Linked DNA regions of Homo sapiens. The gene in region 1 interacts genetically with each later gene. Each region holds a gene or a part of one and is shown on either strand. Other genes may lie near its edges. The genes, in order: ZNF236 and ARID1A.

Region 1 (4,362 bases):
TCGATTAACAGAAGACAGTTGGATTGTCATATCTATTCTGCATTTTCTCTGGTGCAACCTGTTCTTCTTGACTGTGATACATGAAGGTAATACAGCCTCACTCTTAGGCACCGCCACCACCACCTAGATTCGTGCTAAGATGTCAGCAGTTGTGCCAACAACTGCTTTTGTACAATTAGTGCAAAAATTAACAGAGTGAAAAAGCCTAACAGTCTTAGTCTATGATATTTACCTTACAGAAGCCTGAAAACATCTCAGGGAACCCCCAGGGGTCCAGGAACCACAGTTTGAGAACCACTTTGCTACAGGAGGACTGGTGTTCAGAAGGGAAAGGTAACTTTTAAGCAGGTTTGAGGAAGGCCTCTCTGAAGACGCTAAATCACTTGGAGCCACAAGACTAGCAAAAAGTGCTTCTCAGACTAGGAAATGGCAAATGCCCTAAGACAAAAACTAATGTGGCATCAAGGAACACAAAAGACTGCATGCCAGAGCAAGGAAAGAGAGAAGAGTCAGACAAGGCCCGATCAACAGGATCCTGGAGGAATGGGTTTCTGTTAAAGGGATGAGGAAGCCAATGCACGCTTTTAATCAGGGTGTAGCCATCTGATTTACATTTAACAAGTTCATCCACGCTGACAAGTGACAGATTTATTTACAGGAGCCCAGGACTAGCAGGGCCCAGGAAGGGGGCTCCTGCAGCTCTCCAGCCCGGAGAGGGAGGCTGGGTCAGAGGGTATCTCTGGAGATGGAAAGAGGAGGGCCCACTGGAAATACATTCCCGAGGTAGAAGCTGCAACACTAAATTAGGAAGTGTGTTGGGGGATAAAAGAAATAGAATAATTCTTGAGGCCTGAGGGTGAAACACCAGGTGGACAGGGATACCATCGGTGAGATGGGGATACTGGGGGAATGGGTGCCCCGCCTGTGGCCGTGGAAATTTTACATTCTTTCTCTATCCTAAGCCTTCTTCCAAGTAACTGAGACACTGCACCTTACATTATTTTTGGCAGATGGCATACTAACAAAACAATTAAACTAACGAAATAAGGTCAAGGCCAAAACTCAAAAGCGGGAGAGGCAACAAAGACTTCCTTAAAGGCCAGACACCATCAACCATTAATCAAAATTCTGAGCACTGCTGTTATCCAACTACAAATCTGCATACCTGGGTCATGGTGCAGCCAACATCTCTCCAGCAGCCCACAAAGGCCCATGAGGTGTGCGAAAGCTCGCTGAAACGCCTGTTGGTCACCAACGTTTCCGTAATGTGCACGTGTGTTAACTCTACCAAGTGCAATCACGACAAGAATTCCTGGTTTGGTGTGGCCTATGAATAAGTTTACATTGATTCCTACCCATTACCTCTTTCTTCCTAAACACAAAATTAACACAATCCTTTGTAGTTTCCAGGCCCGACCTTTCTCTGGGGCACCTGTGTTGTTTGGTCACAAGCTCTTTAATGAGCCTCAGTTTACTCATCCCCAAGAAAAGGGGAACACTTGAGTCACTAAGCTAAACAGTTAAATAAAAATCAACGGCAGTCAAGGTATAACCCACCGACTCCCATAGGGAGTCCTAGGCGCCCACTCCCCCTTAGAACCCCCTTCAAAACCCTTTCCAAACGCGGAGCGCCGCTCCAGTTGCACGGGTGACCAGGACCAGGGACCAGGCCTGCAGGGGGAGACTCGCGTCCAAGGCCGCACGGGAACCACGGCGCCCGCGAGAAAAAGCGCGGCGCCCCCTACCCCACTGCCCTCGACCTGGGAACCGCGGCACCGGCGAGTGCGCCCCGATCCCCCTGCGCAGGAAAGTCCGTTCCTCAAGCTCCGGGCTGGGGCTTTGGAAGGCAAGTCAATTCCTGACTGCTGGAAGGGCCAGGGTCTGGGGGTGCCCGGTTGTGTGTCTGCCTGCTCTTAAATTCTGGGCCTTTCTCCTTCCTTGGAAAACAAAATCTGAGTTATTTCATGACTTTAGCAAAGTACCATGGAGAATAAATTACTGGGGAAAACACTTCCTGACGCCTACTGTGTGCACGATCTAGCGCTCCCCACATAACACTGATGCCTACTGTATGCACGACCCACAGCGCTCTCCAGAAGCTCCAGGTTCAAGCTACCCGGATCACAATGGTGCCTACTGTTTGCACGACCCACAGCGCTCTCCAGATGCCCAGGGTTCCAGCCCCCCGGATCACAATGGCGCCTACTGTATGCACTACCCACAGCGTCTGCAGAGGCTCAGGGTTCAAGTTCCCGGATCACAATGGCGCCTACTGTATGCACGCCCCACAGCGCGCCCCAGATAACACTGGAGCACACTGTGTGCACGACCCTGCGCTTCCCGGACAACGCTGGCGCCTACTGTGTGCACGACCCCGCGCTCCACGGCCTCCCTGTGGGCCGAGCCCAACGTCCCCGGGGCAGCCGGCGCCGCGCAGGGTCGGGCGGGGGCGCCGTCCGGGAGGAGCCCGGGGCGCGGTATCCGCAGGCCCGGGCTCTGGCCAGGCCGCCTCCCCAGCGCGCCCCGCGGCCCTCCGGCCCCGGGACGGAACACGGGGCGGCCACTTTCCCTCAAGTTCAGCGCGGGCCGCGGCAGGGCCAGCGGGGGCAGGGCGCGCGCAGGAGGCGGCCGCCTGCTCCCTCACCCGCCTCCCGCCTCCCGCCTCAGCCGCCGCCCGGCCCAGGAAAGTAGGCCCAGCGCGCGGAGGGGCCGGGCGGCGACTCGCCCGTATCATTCCGCCCGCGCTGCGGCCCGCCCGGCCAGTCGGCGGCGGCGGCGGCCCGGGTCTGCGCGGCCCCCGCCCCCGCCCCGCCGCTCCCGGCGCCCCCCGCGCCGCATCCGGGGACTGGCAGGGCGCGGGCCCCGCACCGGCCGCCGGCGGGGCGCGAGGGCGCGGCCGCGGGCCTTACCGGAGTCGCCGCGCGCCTTGCTCTCCCTGGGCTTCGGGGGGCGGCCCCGCGGCATCGTCGGCGGCCCGGCTCGCACCCACACCCACTCACACTCACACTCACACTCACACGCGGCGGCGGGGGCGCGCACGCGCGGGCACCGGGGCGGGGGCGCGCCCAGCCGGCGCTAGAGGCGGGCGGAGCTGCCCGGCGGCGGGCGGCCCGGTCCGAGCGCCGCCGGGCTCACGGGGGAAAGGCGCCTGAACGCGCGCACCGGAGCGCTCGAACCGCGCCGGCCTTGGCAGGTTCCATGGCCCGCGGGCCGCGGTGGGGGCGTTGGGCGCGGGCGCGGGCGCGGTGGGGGCGGGGGCGGCGGCGGGGCGCATGCGCGGCGCCGCGGGGCCTTAGCGGACGGAGGGGAGCGCGGGGGTCACCGGGCCGGGCCGGCAGCCCTAGAGCTCGGCCTGGCGGGGACCCTGGGCCAGCCCCGCGCCTCCGTGGCCCGGGCGTCTCGTGCGTGTCCGCGAACTCGCGTGCGCGCGTCACCTCGGACCGCAGCATGGCTCGGAGGGCGGCCCTACTCGCGCCGCCCTAGTGCTGCGAAGGGCCTCGGAGCCCAAACCCGGAACCGCCATCTGGGACTGGGAAGACGACATGGCCAGAAGCCGGTAATGTTCCTTTCCCTGGGGGCAGTGCATTAAAATGGACCATTTCACGTGTGCTGGTCTTGTGTGTTGTTGCCTGCGCTAACTTACACGAAGTGGCAACAGGAACAGGCAGCGCAGCACCCGAGCGCCGGGTGGAGAGGCCGGCCGAGCCCGGGGAAAGCGACCTTACTCTGTCACCTGGGCTGGAGTGCAGTGGCGCAAATTAAAGTGTGCAGTTTGATACATCTTGACACATGTATACACTGTGAAACCATCATCACAATCAACAGTGAAGATGTTCCTCCCGTCTCTCTGTAACCCTTTCCTCTCTCCCTCCTTCCCTCCTCCCCCTCCCACCCATCTGCTTTTTGTCACTATAGTTTGAATTTCCTGGAGTTTTTAAATATCTTTTTATACAGACTGGGTCTCGCTTGCTCTGTCACCCAGGCGGGAGTGCAGTGACACGATCGGGACCCACTGTAGCCTCAAACTCCTGCCCTTAAGCAATCCAACTGCTTCAGCCTCCCGAGTAGCTGAGACTGCAGGTGAGGACCGCCATGTCTAGCTTTTTGTTTTTTTTTAAACATATGGGGTCTCTCTGTGTTGCCCAGCCTGCTCTGGAACTCCTAGCTTCAATTGACCCTCTGCCTCAGCCTCCCAAAGTGTTGGGATTGCAGATGTGAGCCACTGTGCCCAACCTGTTTTTCTTGGTGTTTTATATAAATGGAATTGTATCGCACGTAATCTTTAGGGAAGTGGGGGCTGTTCATTGAGCATAATTATGTTGGAATTCATCTATATATTGATAAATATTTTAAGTGCTTTTT
Region 2 (3,807 bases), on another chromosome or scaffold:
AGAGAAAAGCATACAAAAATCTTGGCTGCTAGTGATGAGCCATGGAAAATCATGAATCTGCCAGTGCCAAGGGAGGAGGAAGTCTAATATCTAACTTTGCAGACTTGGGAACATAAAAGCAACAAAGCCATAAGGAAGCCCAAATGCAAAAGAGAGAAAAAAAGGCACATGGCACATTTCCTCTTCATATGGGTAGCAATTCAAGCAGCGCTTTGGGCCTGCAGAGCACTTAGCTCAGTACCCAAAGCCCCTTAGTATTTATATCAACATAACTTCCTGGAGGGTGACAAAAATCTGTCCTGGATTACTGGGTGATTTCTAATATGTACCATGACCAACACTAAGTCAACATTTTAGGGATCAAATTTCCTACTCTGCAGCATGTTGGAATGCATTCTTGGCATTAGACTTCTTCCCATTCCAGTCCACCCTTAGAAAATGCAGAAGCCACTGGGAAATAGACTCAACCTGTCCCAAGATAATATTCCAGCTATGCACAAGTGACTAACAAAAACAAACAGAAGTTCATTCAGATGTCCCTTCACATTCAGTAAAAAACTAATTTCATCCATTTAAATGGAGAGGAGGGGTAATTTCAGGAAGAATACTCAAGGCTACTAAGTCAATATTCACCCGAACTTGGATTCCTCTAAAACCTGGGAATGATCAGAGTTCAAGCCCCTAAACACCTGTAATCCATAGGAGGTTAACTATGGTGCCCAATTCTGAGTAACTGAAAACCCACTTTTGCAAAATGCCAAAATGGCAAGGCAAAAAAAGTGGAAAAGGTATTTCTAAACCAGAATGTTTATCCAAGACTCCAGTACTTTCAGCAGGTCATGGACCATTACTTGAGGGGGGGGGAAAAAAAAAAAAGGCTGGGCGTGGTGGCTCACACCTGTAATTCCAGCACTTTGGAAGGCCAAGGTGGGTGGATCACACCCGAGGTTGGGAGTTCAAGACCAGCCTGGCCAACATGATGAAACCCCACCTCTACTAAAAATACAAAAATTAGCCGGGCATGGTGGTGGAAGCCTATAATCCCAGCTACTCAGGAGGCTGAGGCATGAGAATCGCTTGAACCTGGGAGGCAGAGGTTGCAATGAGCCAGATTGCACCACTGTACTCCAGTCTGGGTGACAAAGTAAGACTCCATCTCAAAAAAAAAAAAAGGTCTGCAGTACTTCTGTACTGGAGCAGTGTAACCAATCCTTCTCCAGGTAGAAGCATTACAGTGGCCTGGCACTGGACATGCCATGCATCTTCAGCTGTTAAGCATCCACTGATGATCCTTGACCGGTGAAGTGCCAAGGCCCAACCACAGATCGACCAGCAGGTAAAGAAACCAAAATCACTATATTCCAGAGGCTCCACAAGGATTAAGCATTGGTGAGCAGCATTTGTTAGCTGCTTGGCCATAGTAACCTAATAAAAAACAAATTTTTTTTTTTTTTTTGAGACAAGGTCTTGGCTCCATTGCCCAGGCTGGAGTGCACTGGCGTAATCATGGCTTACAACAGCCTCAACCTCCTGGGCTCAAGCAATCCTCCTGCCTCAGCTTTCTAAGTAAACTGCGACTACAGGCACGTACCACCACATCCAGCAATTTTTGTGTCTTGTAAAGATGGGGTCTCCCTATGTTAATAGCCTGGTCCCAAGGCTGGTCCTGGGCTTGGGCAATCCTCCCACCTTGGCCTCCCAAAGTGCTGGGATTATAGGTGTGAGCTACCGCGCCCGGCCAAAAACAGTATTAAAGGCCATTTCTATGAATAAATGGGCAGACTGCATATGTGCAGGCTTACCTAACCCATCAACCTCAATATAAGGTCTAACACAAGCAACTTGACTTGAACACAGCTCCCAGCTCCTCAGAAATAGCAGCCTAAGAGTCCCAACAGATACTTACTTCGTGGCTCTTGTTTTAAGAAAGGTCAACTAACTCTGCCAAGACAGACTCACCAACAAAGTTGAACCACCATTACTACAGAGCTGTCCAGGGCACACAACTCTGAAGGTGACATGACCTTCCAAATCCAAATTTACTAGAAAAGTGCCCCTGAACTAGCCAAGAACTTAACAGTCTGTACCAAAGGCTCTACCTGACCACAAGAACCACTAAGACCCTGGAACCACTCTTTCAGGGAGTTTTATGGTTAGAGTCCAAATTCTCAAAGTCATTGGAACACTGAGACAGCTACTGGTCTGGAGATGGATGTGCAATGTGGATTCTATCAAGCCCATGGAACTTAAGAATAGCATTATGAAAAGGCAAATTAGTATTCTAAGTTTCTTGAACATTTAGCTTCACAAAAAAAGCCTCTGAAAAGCTGTCCCAGGTTAACCCTGCCAAACTGATTGAACCTTTTCCTCTAATTCCTTCAGCTCACATAATTAGTGTGGTCTACATCCATTTATGAAACCTTGCTTTTCAAGTTTTCCAGATGTGTGCACATAAGCATGCTTTCCTAAGAAAACTAAATGCCTCTGAAGGAGATATTGTTTCTACCTTTTAAATCTCTTCCTAGTACCTAGCTGGTGTAATCACATAGGGCTATTTCCCATCCCCATTGGAATTTCCTGATCTCTCTGACTTAGAAACTATGCTCTCAGCAATAAGTCTGAAGTTCCTAATACCCTCACTACCAACATACTGGGAAAGGACCATGCAATATTAAGCAACCTATGTCAGTGCCAATCCAAGTTTTTGTGTTTTGTATTAAAACAAGCTGATAGCCTTTGGTAGTAAGTTAGCTGAACCTAAAAATCATAGTCAGGACCATAATTACATTCATATTCCCTGCTACTATATAAACAGCTAAGTCAAAAGGGCACTTCCAGGACTCTGGTGTAAAAAACACTTCTTATAAAGAAAACTGGTGTCAGAATCAATGAATCTAGTTAAAAAAGACATTCTGAGAAGGCAAATCTGGTCATCTCACAAGGCTACCAAAGAAGAGGACCACAGACAGACAGCTAAAATATTCATAGATTCTTCTTCTTCTTCCATAAAAAGAATGTGTCACTGAAGGAACCCAGATATGTTTTTAATCCTAAAATGGCAATTTCAAAAACAAAGACTGTATCTACTCACATAATCCTTCAAGTAAGATGTAGTGAGTCCCCAAATATTTGGACTTTGTACTGACCCAGGAACAGAGTGTAAAGGCATATTAATTTTATCATAAGTGATACACAGAAGTCCAGTAAAAACTGTATAAATAAACCCAGGCCATTGGGTAGTGGACTTATAATCCCCAGCACAACAGCAAAATTGAGGATAAAGATCACACTCAAGTTGCAGTATCTTTTTTCTCCTTTCTAATATTCCAGAAATGCAAACCCAAGCCAAAAATAATCTCACCAAGCTACCCTTTAAACCTCAAAGTCTCATAAGCCAAGTGTCTGGGGTAATACTTACCTTACTATTGACAGTCAGGATCTTCTTTCCAAACTTCTATTTTCACTATGAAACTGCAATTGACTTTAACAGGATACCACATGCCCTGAACTTAGCACGCAGCCAGGGCCACAGAGGTTTCACTACCAGGGCAGCATCTTTCCATTTCAATTTTTTTTTAGATCACTTCTTATCTCCACACTCACTGCCCCCCAGCACTACCCTTTTCCTATCCCCAAGTCTTTTTCCCCAATGTTATTTTACTCCACCACATGAGGAGGCTAGCATTATCTTTGCTTGAAAACTGTTTATTAATTTGCCTGTCAAACATTCTATAGAACAGTTTACATCTTACTACAGAAACCTCCTGGGTACATATTGACAGCTCAGCAAGTATTTACACAAAGCTC

The links.
Region 2: changes in ZNF236 (region 1) and ARID1A together harm fitness more than expected from each alone (negative genetic interaction), as found in Homo sapiens cells (one large-scale study listed by BioGRID).

What each region holds. Positions count from the first base shown.
Region 1 is NC_000018.10:76,821,210-76,825,571, reverse strand, and holds the start of ZNF236 (zinc finger protein 236), read right to left. Parts: upstream 3,016-4,362; 5' UTR 2,965-3,015; coding exon 2,910-2,964; intron 2,454-2,909; exon of another isoform or gene 2,223-2,453; intron 1,813-2,222; exon of another isoform or gene 1,215-1,812; coding exon of another isoform or gene 1,166-1,214; intron 1-1,165.
Region 2 is NC_000001.11:26,702,509-26,706,315, reverse strand, and holds part of ARID1A (AT-rich interactive domain-containing protein 1A), read right to left. Parts: intron 1-3,807. UniProt on the Homo sapiens protein: Involved in transcriptional activation and repression of select genes by chromatin remodeling (alteration of DNA-nucleosome topology).